Linked DNA regions of Homo sapiens: region 1 is linked to region 2. The links come from fine-mapping of genetic effects on gene expression. A gene starts in region 2. The other region holds a variant in brackets. All regions are shown on one strand. Distances are from middle to middle.

Region 1 (8,332 bases), 57 kb before region 2:
GTCCTAAGTCCATGCAACTCATGCCTGGAAGAGCTGGAACTTGAGCTATAGGTCTCGCTTCCAAAGCCAGTGCCCTTCTCACTGTGCCCCAGGAGCTCGTGCTCATTTGTTTGTTCCTTCTTCGTGTCTCTAAGAGTGGGCTCTACAGTCAAGCACTATGTCTGCGCACATTTCCCCAGAGCTGACCATAAGGGAGAGAGCTAGGGAGGACTTGGAGTCTTCATATCTCATACTGAGACTTCATATCTCAGTACAAGTTTAGGTTGTCACTGGGTAGCTAAGCCACTGAGTTACCATCTAAGGGCTTCAGTTTCCTCATCTGTAAAATGGGGGATAACATCTGATCTCACACAGACGCTTAGCGGCTCAAATACAATCACATACATGAAGAGGCTTTCCGAGCTGTCAATCAGCTCCACAAAAGCAGGGGCTTGGGAGGAAAGGGAGGCTTCATCACCATGTCTAGCCAGAACCACTCTCTCTAGCTGGAGGGCTGAAACACCCTCAAAGCAATCAGAGAACAATTAAGCATTCAGCTGCCTGCTAAATGTGAACTCACACTGTGCCTCTCTGCTCAGGCTGCCCCTCTGCCTGGATTGCCCCCCAACCCCCGACCCTCCAAGTGCCCTGTATGTACAAGAACTCTGTGTAGTTCACGGTCTGTTCCTGACTCCCTACTGTGAGGCAGGAGGTGGGTTTTGCAACCCCAAAATGTCTGGCACCTGCAAGGTGTGCTCAGGAAGTGGTGGATAGGGAGATCTCTAGGCCTTAGAGAAGGCCTTTCAGGTGGCTAAATGCTTCAGGGAATTCTTATGATGCGCCACTGGATTGAATACAGGAAAGACACGGGCTTTAAACCAGGCGGAAGTCACCGGCTGACTTCCCGCTATCCCCAGGCCTCTAGCGCCTTTGTCATCTGCTCCACCGTTTGAGAGTTCTCATTAGGGCTAGTGGTTTCCTGCAGGGAAGTGTCAGGGGAAGACAGGCAGGGAGGAAGGGGAAGCAGGAACCAGCAACGCTCCACCTGGCAGCAGTACGTAATGCTGCTGCTAAAACGAAAGAAAGACAAGAACCAAGGGCCAGGTAAACAGTCAATGCTCAGTGTTCGAAACAAGAGTTTTCATGTATCTGGCTGATTCTCCTGCTTCTCTGTGTTTTCCGGGTGTGGAGGATGAACGGAGGCATGCAGAGGAAACATGGCACCATGGTGCAAAGAGCTGTTGGCAGGTGAACAGGAGATTCGGGCTTTTCCTCCCACTCTGCCCTGACAAGCTGAGTGACCTTGAGCAAGTCACACTGGATTTCAGGGTCTTGCTCTTTAAAATGGGTACTGACAATGGGGAGAGGTTTAATTGTTCTCTAAAGGATAAAGCAAACAACACAGAAAAGGAAGTAATGGCCACAGGTCCAGCAAAGCAAAATAAGTTTAAGCTGACACTGTTCTGGCCAGGGTCCTTCCATGAAAACCCAACAGTAATGACAATGACAGTGACGATGGTGACTACTCTTATTTATTGAGTATGCACTGAGCATGAGGCATGGGACAAGTACTTTCTGTGCTTGTAATGAATTTTCTGTGCAATGTAATGACAAGTGTAATGTAAGCCACTTTTAACGTAAAGCACTTTTTCTATGCAATGTAATGACAAGCACTCATCACAATGGTTAATCTTCACAACGGCCCTTTAAGGTAGATACTATCATTATTCCCATTTTGCAGTTGGGCAAATTGATGCACAGAGAAGTTAAACCTGGGATCAGGGACTGGCGAGTGGGAGAGCTAGGATTTGAACCTAGGGTGTCTGATTCCAGAACCTACCTTCTTTCCCACGACACTCTACCAAACTTGGAAGTCTGTATTTCCACAGTTAGGAAAGAGTAACTGTGGGAAGAGTAAAGGACTTAGGCAATTACAATAATTAATCATTTTCTAAACAGAAGACTCAGTCTGGAAAGACCACACTTGGAGCATGCACAAATTCAAAATCTACTAAATTATTCCTAGTGCAGGAAGCACGTCTCAGGAAGTTGGTTTAAACAAAGGTAGAATAGGTGCCCTGGAGCTAGCCTGGCACTTAGAGTCAGACAATCTGGATTCTAGTCCAGTGGCCCCATGTACCAGCCTCTTCTGCTGGGGTCAGGGAGCCACTTCAGAGCCCATTTTCTCACCCTTCAGGCAGTGAAGTGCCAGAATATATATTTCTCAACCTTCAGGCAGTGACCTCTCCACTCACAGATCTAGCTCAGAATAGAGGGTCCCATCAATGTCCACCTTCTCCACAACACAAAGTTTAAAAGATTCTGTCTCTCATACATTAATTATCTATTAACAAAATAACCAGGCATATGTATAACTGCTGGAGTTTCTGAACAAAACGAGGTAACCATTGTTATCCAATTGCAGCCCGAAGCAAAAACAAAACCAAACCCCCCACGATCCCATGCCACCCCGTGCCACCATATCCTGGGGACTGTACAACTTGCAGTGATTTCTGGAAATACTCCCTGTATTGTGGACTTTTAGGAAAACACTGGCCTAAACTGTTCCTAAGGCCTCTTCCAATACCAAGTTCTATAGTTCTACAAAATTATGTCCATAAGTGTGCTTTGCTAATTGCAAACATATCATTGAGGTTCTTATTTTGTTCCCTTAATGCTGGAAAGGTAAAAAACAGGGAGGACCCCTTGGAGTCCAAAGGAGGTCATCTGAGGATACGAGCCGGGCAGGCCTCTGCCACTTCACACCGAGGGTGGAAAACACATGGAAGTCACTGGGCCCGAGAGGCTGTACCAGCTAAAAATATAAACAAGTGGAAGAAGGGTTTAGATGAACTCATGGGTGAGTGAATGATGGGGTGAGGGAAGTTGGAAATGTTCAGATTTTGTCCATTGCTTGTGCAACCTGCTCTGTTCTCTGTTAGCAATAGAATACTTGGCTGAATGGAGTGCGGATGGGCCCACAGAGAGCAATGCCACATTCTAGTGTGTGCCCAAGATAAAAAAAGAAGGAAGGGAAAAAAAAAGTAATGAGGGTATAGTGGGGTTCCCTGCTCCAACATATAACTTCTATAATCATACACGAAAAACCCTTTGGAATACATGTAGAAATGAAAGAAAGAAAAATAATAATTTCTGATTTGATCTCTAAAGATCTCAACTTTGTTAACATTTTGCTGTAATTTCATCATGCATTATGTGTTTTTCTTAAATAAAAACTATATATACAGTATGAATCCTGCATTTTTCATTTAACATTTACCACTTTAAAAAAATCACATTGGCCAGGCATGGTGGCTCACGCTTGTAATTCCAGCACTCTGGGAGGGCAAGGCGGGCAGATCATGCGGTCAGGAGTTCCAGACCAGCCTGGCCAACAGGTGAAACCCCGTCTCTACTAAAAATACAAAAATTAGCTGGGTGTAGTGGCACGTGCTTGTAGTCCCAGCTACTCGGGAGGCTGAGGCAGGAATGAATCGCTTGAACCTGGGAGATGGAAGTTGCAGTGAGCCGAGATCGAGCCACTGCACTCCAGCCTGGGTGACAGAGTGAACTCTGTCTCAAAAAAAAAAAAAAAAAAAAATCACATTACTAAATACTGTAGACTTCATATATGATCGAAAGGTTTCTACCACGTATTTAACCATTTATTTATTTAATTGTTTAATTATCGTACTATTCACCTCTTGTTGAACCTTGTTTTCTTTTCCCAGTTTTCTGCTGTATAAACACGCTGGGACTGACATGCCTCGTTACTTCTTTTTGGAGAAATAACAATAAATCTCCAAATCTCAGAGTAGAACATGTAATGAGTTTCTCTTACATAGACAAAGGGCATGTGAGGGATGGGCACACGAGGAATATTCGCCAGGGTGTCTGTGGTGACTTGATGTAATACCATTTTTAAACGTTCCTTGATACCCAGGAAGTGCCCCTGGCACCCCACTGTGCTGTGCTTTCTGCTCTCTTCCCACAGCTATTTGTTTTTGTAGAAGATTCTTCCCTTGCTCTGCAAACTGAGAGCACTTGGAGAGCTACAGAGATGTGCAGCCACTGGGCTAAAGCACACCCAGACGGGGCTCTTATTAGAAATGCAAATCTCCTCTCTGCTGACAAATCCCAAACACAAAGCTCAACGGGCTCTTCCACCCTCCTCTCCCCTAAGCGGGTGGCCTCTGTCTTCCATGTTACCTGAATGAGCTGAAAGGGAGTTGGCTGGGTTGTGGATCAGTAATCTGAGAAGGAAAGGGTCTGTCTGAAATGGAATTGTCTCCCCAGTGTTTCCATTTTACCCAATAAGAGGAAGTCAGTCTCTTTCTTCTCAGCCTTAACTCTACTAAAAGCCATTAAGCACCGACAAAGACAGGAGACATTA[T/A]CTGTTGGCAAGTGTGAATGCTGCATTCTGTACCTCCAGCAGGGATGGAAATTGAGCTGTTTACTTGGTGGCCACCCCAAGGGACTGAAATGAAGCTCTAATGTGACAGCATTTCTGAAATGCCAGTTTTAAATCCCAAATTCTCACCCTCTATTCCCCACCTGTAAAACGCACTAGGAATTTGCACTATTAGCACTATTAATTTAGCCGAATTACACCCTGACTAGATCTGACCACCAGATGCAAATGAAGTCACCAGTAGGTGACCACAGTAACCTGGGTCTGGTTTTGGAAAGGAGGGTGGGTGTTTGAAACCTGTAGGGGTAGTGGCAGGACCAGCTTATGGAATAACTTTCCTTATTACAAGTGACTTCCAGGATGGGGCTCACGATTAGAGATGGGGGTCTGGAACCCATTGCTCAGATGGGGTTTCCTTTGATGGTCAGTAATACAGTTACTGGAAAGGGGTCCAGATCTAGATCCCAAGAGAGGGTTCTTGGATCCTGCACAAGAAAGAATTCAGGGCGAGTCCATAAAGTGAAAGCAAGTTTATTAAGAAAGTAAAGGAATAAAATAATGGCTACTCCATAGGGGTTGCCCATTTTTATGGTTATTTCTTGATGATATGCTAAACAAGGGGTGGATTCTTCATGCCTCCCCTTTTTAGACCATATAGGGTACCTTCCTGACGTTGCCATGGTGTTTGTAAACTGTCATGATGCTGGTGGGAGTGTAGCAGTGAGGATGACCAGAGGGTCACTCTGGTCAAAATCTTGATTTTCGTGGGTTTGGGCCAGCTTATTTACTGCAAGCTGTTTTATCTGCAAGGTCTTTATGACCTGTATCTTGTGCGGACCTCCTACCTCATCCTGTGCCTTAGAATGCCCTAATTGTCTGGAAATGCAGCCCAGTAGTGTAAGATTCTCCCTGGGGCCTGAAAGCTTAAGGGGATGAATAACTCCTCCCTTCTCAGGCCCAGTACCAAGGCGCAAGCCTTGCGCCAGCAGTGTGGGCCAGCAAAATAGCAGAAGCAGGAAGAAAGCCGGCCGGAAGACACCTACCCTGGCTGGAAGACACGTACCCGTGAAGATCAAGAAAGAGGCCATCCAGGTACAACGTAGCAGTTACGTCAGACTAGGACACTTCCTGTTTACAGGAGACTATAAAATCTTTGCCCTGTCCTCACTTGGTGCTGATGCCATTTTAGGCCTCAGCCCGCCTGCACCCAGGAACTCATTAAAACAGCATGTTGCTCCACACCGCCTCGTGTTGTCTGTTGGTTCGAACGCGCGCTCTCCGGGTTCGAACCGATACAAGAACCTTAAGTCAGGTGCCAAAACCGGGGAGGGGCTCAGGTCTGCATCCCCTGTGGACCTACCCCTCCACCCCGGAGAGCAAGCCACAGCAGCCGGACAAAGGAAGCTCCTCAGCCTCCAGTTGCCTCTCTGTGCATGCACATCGGTCACTGATCTCGCCTACTGGTAAGTTTTCCCGGGAGCCCTGTTAACAGGGGAAAATCCACATGGCCTCTCTTGATTTCTCTGGTCCAAAAATCCAACGTTGGTCCAAGAAGGTTCCGGTGTGTGTCAGGCACTTGCTGATCATCTGGCCTTAGGGGGGTGCCTCTAAGCCATTAGATCCTGTTCTGGGAACGAAAATGGCAGCAGTGACAATTGCTCCTTTTATTGTCCCCCTCTTGCTGTCCAGGATGTTCTCCTCTTCCTTGTTCTCTCAGCCTACCCTCTGTTGTGGGAAATTCCCAGTCTTCCACTCCAAAGGACAGCCCTCTAGGCTGCCTCATAAAAAAAAACCCTAAAAACCTTAGGCCTCAGGCAAGATATCTGCCCTAAGTGCTGTGTCTTTTTCGCAATTCAGTCTGGCCACAATACGAATTAAATAATGGGTCCAAATGGCCCGCAAATGAAACATTCAACTTTACAATTTTAACTGACTTAAGCAATTATTGCTGACAACTGAAGAAATGAGAAGTTCCTTATGTCCAGGCCTTTTTATTCTCAAATCACAACCCAACCTCTGCAATTCTTTCTTACCTGTTCAAATCCTTCTCCATTCTTGCCACCCTGATCGCCTTTCTCTTCCCGACCCTACCTCTTTTTCCTCATTAAATCCAGCAGACTGCTGTCCACCCCTCCCAGCCCTTACCTCTTCCTCTCAACCATCTTCTTTAACCCCTGCAAGCCTCCTCGTTGTCTTCTCAGCTGCCATCTTCCCAGTCGCCATCTTCTCAGTAAGCAGTATCCACTTCTTTTCCTACACCGTCCCCTACTCAGGACAATTCTAGTATTGCCTGTACCCATTCTCCTCCCCCACCGCCCTCTCCTGAGGCTTGTAAACCCATCCCACCACCTTACGCCCCTATCCTCCACTGCTTATCAACTCAACCACCCTTCCCCCTTCAAACCCTCAGCAGAAACCACTTCCAGCTTCTTCCTTCTCTCCTGCCCTTACTCGCTCGGGCGCCATCTTTGGCCCATGCCCCGCCCTTACTTCAGCGCCGGTGCTAGAATACCCCCTTCAGAAAGTAGTAGAAAATGAAGGTATTGTTAGAGTTCATGTTTCCTTCTGCCTCACTGATCTCTCTCAAATTAACAAAAGATTCGGTTCATTTCCAGAAGATGCTACCTCTTATATTAGAAAATTTCAGTACCTCACCCAGTCTTATGAACTGACCCGGCATGACCTCTAGGTTATCCTCTCTTCCACCCTCACCCCAGAAGACCAAGACCGTATCTGGACTGTAGCTCAGGCACATGCTGATACCATTCATCACCAAGCTCCTGCCCAGCCTACTGGTGCGGAGGCAGTCCCCAACCAGGACCCCCACTGGGATTATCAAGACAGGGCCTCTGGATGCCACCGTTGAAACCACATAATTGTGTGTCTCCTTGCAGGACTCAAAAAGGGTGCCCATAAAGCGGTAAACTATGAAAAACTTTCAGAAATCACCCAAGGTCCTAATGAAAACCCAGCCCTTTTTCTCTCTCATTTAACTGAAGCCATTAAAAAATATACCAACCTAGACCCAGCTAGCCCAGAAGGAACCACTATCTTAAACCTTCGGTTCATCTCCCAATCCACCACCGATATTCGGCACAAGCTTCAGAAGCTTGATGACGGCCCTCAAACCCCACAATGAGACCTTCTAAATTTAGCCTTCAAAGTCTTTAACAATCGTGATGAGGAAAGTAAAAGGCAAAAACAGGCAGAGTTTCGAATGCTTACCTCTGCCATCAGGGGCCCTGCAGGCCCACGGGGCCATAGCTCCACACGGAAGCCTCCTAGCAATCCACCTCCACCTGGCGCCTGTTTCAAGTGCGGCAATGAAGGTCACAGGTCCAGACAATGCCCAAACCCAGGTAAGCGCACCAGGCCGTGCCCCCTCTGCGGAGGACCCCACTGGAAGTCGGACTATGAGCAGCCCCAGCAAGGACCGCCCCCATCCCTTCCGGAGCCGGCCAAAACCTCCTACTTGGATCTCATCGGCCCTGCCGCTGAAGACTGAGGGTGCCCTGGAACAGACGCCCTGGCAACTACCATCACTTCATCCAAGCCAAGGGTAACCCTGATGGTGGCAGGTGGGCCGGTATGTTATTTTTGAATTAATACCGGGCAACCTACTCTGCTTTACCTAATTTTTCAGGACCCACCCAGTCCTCCCAAGTCTCCGTTGTGGGAATTGAGGGACAAGTCTCCAAACCCTGAGCCAGCCCTCCACTTTTCTGCTCCCTGCACACCTTTTCCTTCACTCACTCTTTTTTTTTTTTGAGACGGAGTCTTGCTCTGTCGCCCAGGCTGGAGTGCAGTGGCGCGATCTCAGCTCACTGCAAGCTCCGCCTCCCGGGTTCACGCCATTCTCCTGCCTCAGCCTCCCGAGTAGCTGGGACTACAGGCGCCCACCACCACGCCCGGCTAATTTTTTGTATTTTTTAGTAGAGATGA
Region 2 (8,332 bases):
TCAGCTGCTCCCACCTCTAGGAGATCCTCTGTGATCCCCTCAGAGCAGAAGAATCATGCCTTTCCTTGTGCTTCCACAGTGGTTAGTTTTCTCAATCATAGCACTTATCTAAGCCTGCTTGATTTGGTTTAATGAGTGCTTCCCCGCAGTCGGCTCAAACTCCTAGAGGGCAGGGGGTGTGTATCCCACCAGCATCTCCATAATGTCTGGAGCATGCAGTGCTTTGCGTTTCTGCCAGGGGGGCTCTGTCTCCCCAGCATTTCCATACATCTGGTTATGCGCTCTGCATTGCAACAGCAGAGTGTGTGTGTTCTGGGGGCTGCCACTCCGCTTACTAGCTGTTTGGACTTGGGCAAGTTAGCTAACTTACCTGGGCTTGTGCCTCCTCATCTAGAAAAAGGAGAGAATGAGAGTACTTACATCAGAGTTGTCATGAAGACAAAATAGTCTAGTCATAAGCACTTGGGATAGTGCCTGGCATACAAAAATGCTTAATGGCTATGGGTTCTTATTAGTATAATGAACATTATAGTTGCTGAATGAATAAATAAATCAACACACAGTTGCTAAATAAATGAATAAAGGAATAAAATCCAGGTAAATTCTGAAGTTCGGACCTCAGGACAGTGGCTACTGTTCCCTCTTTTCTGCTGGACCTGACCCTTTACTTTTTTATTCTAACTGTGACGTCGTGTATCTGAATGCTGCTACAATGGACTGGTTAAGGCTATGAAGTTAGGCCTGGATTTGCTTTTTGCTGTGTCGCTCAGGCAAGTTTCTTCACCTCTTGGAGCCTCTGTTTCCTCAACCATAAACGGAGGATAATAGTAGTACTTAGCTCACAGGATTGTGGTGAGAATTAAATGATAAAGCACGTAAAATATACAGCATTGTGCCTCACACACCATAACAGTGTTAGAAACTGTTATCAAACATTGCCATGATTATTTTTGATAAGTGTACAGCATCCCACCAAATCACATGGTCCTGATGTGGATGAGAAACGCCGGGTGGGGCCACCTTTCAGCATGTCAAGATACACTGCACTTACATCACAGGAATACCCTTTCTTCAGTGCCAACAAACAGTGGTGTTTTCCCCCTTCAAATGGACATTAGTTGAGATAGCTGATGTGCCCCAGAATCTTGGTTTCTTGCATTTTCCCCTGAAGCACAATCTTCAGGTGCATCCTTTAGCTGACAGCAAACCTGGCTAGAAGGAAAGGTACAAGTGCGCAAGAGAACAATCGCGGAGCAGAGCATTTAAACAGCGATGATATTTCCACACATCACCAGTCCAATTATTGTCAGTGACACATTTCAGCCTTACTTGTAGATTTTTTCCCTTCTGGCCTTAAAAGAAGCTGTGTATACAGCTTTACATAACTTTCCCTTTAAACTTAAACCTTTATGGTAGTCCCATTCAACCACTTGACAGCTCCATTAATCTATTTTTACTATTAAACATGCCATTTTACAAGATATTTATTCCACTTGGTCGTCATCCAAACGCTTTTTGACATTACTGCCCTGGGAGTGAACTGCTTAAACTCGCTGCCCTCATAAACAGAAAATCACCTTTTGACTCAAATCTTGAAGAGCTCTCAGAACCTCACCCCCTTCACTTCTACAGGCATTAATTTCTGCCATATATAAAGGAGAGAGTGAGTAAGTGTGTGTGTGTGTGGTTTTAAGAGGGTAATTGTGGGAGGTCTGGGCAATTCAAGAAGTGCTGGGGGAAGGAATCCTCTCCTCTAACTCCATTCTGCTCATCGGGGCCTGCCTGAGACCTGGAGATCTGGTAACTTAACAGAGAGAAAGTGATCAGAGAGCAGGTTGGGGAAGAACTCCAGGGCCTAAAAGGCAGTGTCCCAGGGGGCCAAGCTGAGCAACCACTCTTTAAAAGGGGAGGGGTCGAGGGAAAGTCCTTATTCATCGACTTCTCTCCTTCTCCACGCCCCAGACAAACAAAAGGCCACCGCGAAACAGTTGAAGGTAGAGACCTACTGGCTTTGAAGACTATCAATCAGGTGGAAACCTGAACAAATCACAATTTGGCTTCCTCATCAAGTTTTCTCCCCAGCCTGACAAACCCTCCTCCGCCGCCGCCTCCACCTCCTCCTCCGCCTCCCAGGCTCAGCACAGCTACGAGGCCAAAGGGACCGTCCTGTGATGCCTGCTGGTTTCCAACTTTCCGCTCATCTTCGTCTCCGCAGCCTCCTGCAAAGCGGCTGGGAAAAGGGCAAGTTTGCAAAGCCGAGGATACAAGTCCTGGGGAAGCCACAAAGAAGCTGCAACACCAACAAAGATTAACCTCTTGTGGGGCAGACGAAAAGCGCCAGCTGCCGTTCAGGGGGGCGAACGTGGGCTCGGGCTGGCAGAGGCTCCGGCCAGCTGGCAGCGGACAGCAGGGCCGGGGGTCCCGCGGCCGCCCTCGGCCCCCCGCCCCGCGCGGACTCCCCCTGCACCTGAGCGGGGGTGAGGACAGCGCCGCGCTCCGGCCCTGCCCCCGCCAGGTAGCTCGGCTGCCGCCCGCGCTGCGCGCCCGCTGCCTGCAGCCGCCGGGAGCGACGAGAGCAGAGGCAGCCTCGGCCCACGGCGTCATGCTTCCTGCCACCACATTACGGCGAATCGTCACCGGGAGAGGGGAGCGAGGGGAGAGGGGGAGGGAGGGGAGCAGACACACGCAGCCCCCCGCCTGCCAAAACGCGCGGAGACGGGGCCACGTCCCGGTGGAGTCCCCGCGGGACCTGCCCCGTTTGCACAAAGCGCCGCAGTTTGGCCAAGAAGGGAGGGAGACGGCCACGAAATAAATAAATAAAAACAGTCGGGTCTACGTAACGCCCTGTCGAAAGCGGACGCCATATTTTTTTGTGGCTTATGTCGACATAGGGAAACGTAGACATGTTTTTCCTCCTCCTCCTCCTCCTCCTCGCTCTGGCTCCCATTTATCCAAACTTGTAATCAAAACTCTTAAAAAAAAAATCTTCTTCCCTCTCTGTATCCGCTCATTTCCTCCCACCCGCAAAAAGAGCCTGCACACCCCCCCCCTTCCGTACCCCCCTTCCAATCACAAACCCGGCCAAGTCCCATTAACAACACATTTTCGGGAGCCGCGGCGGCGACGGCGGCGGTGGGAAAGTTGGGCTGGAGTGGCCGGCGCCCGGCGTGCGGGGTTTGGGGCCGGCGGCGCCGGCTGGGGGGCTCCGCGCCGAGGCGAAGTTTCTTACCTGCGCTGGGGCTGTGAACGCGGGGACCCGGGCTGGGAACGCGGAGACGCGGCACGGGCGTTCCAAAATGGAACTCTGCTGGCTCCCCCCACCCACTCCCCACTCCCCACCGGGCGCCCGGCTCGGGCTCCGTGGGAAAGAGGGGGAAAGCCAGCCTGCCAGCCAGACAGACAGACAGAAAAAGCCCCCGTACGGAGAACGATGGCCAAAATTTTTAAAAGAAAAAAAAAAAGGAAAAAAAAAGGGAAAAAAAATGCCTCGATCAGTGGGGAATCTACGCCAAAACCCACATGATCTGTAACGTCAGCATGCGTATTTGCATACGATACCACCACCCGAGCTGCCACCCGGGCTCGGGTTCCGCAGAAAGTTACAAAGTGAAATTCAGCCCCCTCCGGAGACACCGGCGAAATGTCATTTTTCAGGCAGGAGCTGGGGGGGAGGCTAGCCCTAAAGGCGCTGGTTACTGGCCAAGGTAGGGGGGCAGTAAATTAACTTAAAAGTCTGAGCCCAGTAACGGACTCGGTGGAATTTCTGCGAGAAGAGGAGGGGGAGGCGCGAGCGAGATCATTGAATATTAAGCACGACCCCGCGCGGCGGCCGCGGCCAAACCGTCTCCGTGCAATACCCATTTTCTTTATGAAAAGTTCAAGGTGTCACTGATGAGCTCAACAAACTGTTGATCTTGACCACGTGGAGTGGCGGACCGTGGGACCGAAGGGCGCGCTTGCAGGCCCGGCTCTGGCGGTACCCGGGCCCCGGGACCCTTTGCGTGGGACTGTGCGCGGGTGGGGCCACCACGCACCCTGGGCGCTGCCTGCGCCTTGGCCCGGCTTCAGGCTCAGGAAAATAATAATAACGATTTTAAAACTATGTTGAGCGAGACACATTTTACTCCCGGAATGATAATGAGAAGGCTCGGCGTAGGGAGGGGAAGAAGGAGCCCCCCACTTATATAACGACTTGAAGTTATATCACTTTTGCTTGGGGAGATTCCGGGATTTCCGCCCGCGCCAGGTCTGAGGCTGGTTAAAGATCTTCAAACTTTTTTCCCTTAAGAGCCAATAAACAAACAGACGCCCCAGGGGCCGACTTAAACTCTGGTAGAGCCCGAGTTCGCTGGAATTCTCAGATTCGAAGAAATGCACACGCCTGCGGTGCTCGCAGAGAAGTCCCTCGGAAGCTAGGCGGGTCGCTTTCGCAACTGGGACTCCAATGTTCCCAGTGGGAGCGGAGCTCTCACCGCGGCAGCCCCCAGGTTCCCCTAGGCGCCTTAGAGCAAAGGTGGCGGGGGATCGCGCTGCCCTTCGCCCGCCGGCTCGGAACCATGAACTTGTATTCCGGGCGCCGCGCTCCTGCCACAGTGCTCGGCTAAAGAGCTCTAAGGAATTCGGGATCTGGGTACACTTCGGGATCTCAGGCGGCAACCTGTCTGCGCCGCGCATTCCTGCCCAGATGTACCTTGTTTCCCCCTGGGCTGGCCTGTGGACTCTTGGGCAGCTCCCGGGCGGGGACGAGGGGATGCGGTCTGGGGGCTAGTTTAGAAGCTTCGAGCGCAGCGAGAAAACAAAGGGAGCCTGGGGCTGGGAGGCTCTGCGGAGTCCCCGCCCGCCCTGCAGATTAGCAGGCGCGTCGCGTCGGGGCTTCCCGGGCAGCTCTGCTCTGGGGAATTAGAACGAACTCTAGCGGCCGTTTGCAACTCGGCTGTGGGCGCGAGGGCATCAACAGGTGGCCGTGTGCAGCGGAGAGGCCAATGGCGAGGACCCGGACTGGGGTGAGGACGGCTGGCCTTGGGGCTGACTGGGTGGCGGATGCGCTGGGTGACCTTTTGGCTTTTTCATTTCCGAGGCCGGGGAGAAGGAAGTAGCTAAAAGGTTTTTGTAAGTTCTGCCCTAGGGCTCTAATTTCTGACATACCCCTTGACTCCCCAGAAATCCTTTGCAACAAAAATTAAAACAGCTCATATGCAAAACTTTCTTAATGGCCTGCACCTGTTTGTTCGGTTATTGCTGATGTAGGGTCTGTTTGTTTGCATTTTAACCGCCCATAAAACAAGATTCTATCCTGGGAAGGAGTCTCTTGCGTGATGCTCGCGGACCTGAAAGGCGACCTGGAGGGGCTCTTACAGGATTCTGTTAACTTCTTGATGACTGTAATCCAGCTTGGGCCACATCTTTCTCAGCCTCATTTGGTACCGGCTAAGAACCTAATTTACTTGCCATCAACATCAGAATTTACCGCTGCCTGATCTCCTCCCAACCTCTGCCTCACCCAGGGTGAACCAAAATTGTAAAAAGAAAAGAAAAAAATATGGGACCCTCCCCCCATTCCCCCGCCTTGTCCCGTCCCGCCGGCCACACCAACTTCAACATTTTTACATCGCTTACCTTATTATGCCCCTTGCAGGCTATTCCACGCCCTGCCCCCCCCCCCTTTAAAATAAGTCTAGTTCTGTCTGTTTCCATGGAAATTACCCAAACCTTAACGAAGCTATTCCTATTTTGAGGCTGCACCTCCTCTGGATGATCAATCACTTAGGAGGGTTTTCTATAAGCCAAGTTTCCCTTGCTGCCACCTCACTGCCACCTGCTTCTGGCTGGGTGACAGATTGTATGTAGGGTGGAATGGGCCAGGTGGGAGGGAAGCCAGGTAACCCTCTAAACAGTCTGCTGGGTTCTCATATCTTCAGAGCACTTGGATCTCATGGACACTAGCAAGGATGAGGGGCTTCTGATGTGTTGCAGTGTTTTAAAATTGTTCAGAGTTTAGCATGGACTGAACTTGCACCATATAAAGAGAAAACAATGAGGAATAAGACAAAGGTGGCTTTTGCTTTATGTGGTATGATCCCTGTTTGCTTGAAGTATACTCATGGAGTAGACAGACCGTTATCTGACAGTATTTAGGAGCTTCAGAATCAATAATGTTGGACAAGTAAATGTTCAGCCAGGAAGTAACGTATGCCACTTTCACTTACAACTCATTGGTCAGAACTAAACACAAAGTTAACTGTAAAGATCCATGGAAGTATTGTGTGCCTGGAAATGGAGAGAATGGGAAAGATTTGCACTAATATGATAGCACTAAGGACTATCATAAATAATAATAGCAGTTCACAATTATTGATCATTTACCATGTGCTGAGCCTTTTATATGTATCATCTCATTGAATCATCACAAAAATCTATATTTTGTCTTTATTTTACCGATATAGAAACTGAGACTTAAAGAGCTTAAGTACTGTACCTTGCTCGACATCACACAGATGCTAAGTAATGGAGTTGGAATTTAAGCTTAATTTTACCTGCTTCCCAGAGAATAGACTTTTAAAACACTGTCCTCAACCACCTTTGGACTTAATTGGTCCCCTGTTGTTGGGCATTGGGTAGTTTCAATTTTATTCCAATGAACAACCTTGTGTCAGATCTTTTGAATCATCTGCGATTACTTCCTTAGGATAAATTCCTAGGTACATATTTGCTTAGTTGAAATATACACACATTTCAAGAATAAAAACCTTTTGCAAAAAGTGAAAGCTTTAGGAGGTGTGGTAGTCTTCTAAGATGGCTTTTTTCAATCCTTTCCTTCCTTTTTTGAAAAATACATCACCATTAAGAGGTGGAGTTTACTTCCCCTCCCTTGGAATCTGGACTGGTCCTGTGATTGCTTTGGATGCAATGAAAGTGATATTCTGAGACATCTAAATCCAAGTCTTAAGAGACTGGCAGTTTCTGTTTCCTTCCTTTTAGGGTCCTGCTGCCATGCTGTGAGAAGCCGAAGTTTCATGGAGAGGCCACATGGAGTGAAAACAAAGGTGATAGGGACAATAGCTCCACCTGAGATCCTGATTAATACACAGACTTTAGCCATCTTGGATGCTCCAGCCTAATCGATCTCCCACTTGACTCTAGTCTCACCTGACATTATGTAGAGGAAAACCATCCAGCTCCACCTAGTCAACCCACAGAATAATGAGATGATCATAAGACTGTAGTTGTTTAACATTATTAACTTTTGGGGTGGTTTATTACACAGTGATAGATAAATAAAATGGGAGTTATTATCCGTGTCTTTATTTGCACATATATCTGAATATTTCAGATCTACTTCCCCCTGAACTCTGCAGGGTATAGGTAGCATTGTGAAATATTGGAGGCCAGGACAAGGGGTAGAGAGGCCTCTTGGTCCATGATGCCTGAGCTGGCCCACTCTCCAAATCAAAGCTTTTCTTGATTTTAGTTGTTGCTCATGAAGGATCCCGCGCCACAGGTCCCAGATCCTAAGCAAATAAGAACTCATTTATCAAGCATAGATACTCAGTAGGTACTGGAGTTAAGTTCCTGTTTGGTGTTGCCAAAAACAGAGGTTTCCATTATTTAAGGATATACACTGTGATAGGGAGTGCAAGTGCCCACCATGTACATGGCTGCCTGGGAGGTGCTTCTTATACTTTATGTAATTTAATCTTTTAAACAACCTTCTGAATAGTATATTGTCTCCTTAATTTGTGGGAGAAAACAAGTTTATAGAAGCTTATGAATTATCCATGGGCCATACAGCTGATAAGTTAGAAGCAGGTCTTGAGCCCACATTTGATTGATTACAAATCCTGCCTGCTTCCCACTATACTTGTGACTTGCAAATTAACTCATGTGCAAACCCCCTTCACCAATTTTGTCCCAGTAGCAAAGGAACTACCTATAGTATTTTTAATTTAACATTTTATTTGGCCAGGGTCATGGCTCACACCTGCAATCCCAGCACTTTGGGAGGCTGAGGCAGGTGGATCATTTGAGGTCAGGAGTTTGAGACCAGCCTGGCCAACATGGTGAAACCCCATCTCTACTAAAAACAAAAAAAAATTAGCCAGGTGTGGTGGTGAGTGCCTGTAATCCCAGCTACTCAGGAGGCTGAGGCAGGAGAATCGCTTGAACCGGGGAGGCAGAGGTTACAGTGAGCCAAGATTGTACCACTTCCAGCCTGGTGACAAAGCTAGACTCTGTCTCAAAAAAAAAAAAAAAAAAAAAAAAAAAGAAAACATTTTATTTACATTGATTCACATTTTTAAAACTTAAATGCACTTATTTCATACTAATACTAAAG

The links. PIP is the estimated chance that this variant, and not a neighbour inherited with it, causes the effect.
Region 1: its variant is fine-mapped to the expression of ZHX2-AS1 in caudate (GTEx, PIP above 0.99).

What each region holds. Positions count from the first base shown.
Region 1 is chr8:122,833,822-122,842,153 of GRCh38, reverse strand. The region is part of intron 1 of ZHX2 (zinc fingers and homeoboxes 2); the gene reads right to left. Among named protein-coding and RNA genes, the nearest start is that of ZHX2, 56 kb to the right of the region's middle. RefSeq lists enhancers at 3,705-4,536, 5,184-6,383. The variant T/A (reference allele first, on the strand shown) is at 4,373.
Region 2 is chr8:122,776,844-122,785,175 of GRCh38, reverse strand. It overlaps ZHX2-AS1 (ZHX2 antisense RNA 2), which reads left to right and starts at 3,572. Exons shown (of 2, transcript XR_007061082.1): 1 at 3,572-5,003; 2 at 6,979-7,292. ZHX2 (zinc fingers and homeoboxes 2) reads right to left here and starts at 3,521. Exons shown (of 4, transcript NM_014943.5): 1 at 3,230-3,521. RefSeq lists silencers at 1,530-1,609, 2,390-2,519, 2,740-2,809 and enhancers at 1,670-2,204, 2,860-2,909, 4,077-4,576, 4,577-5,078.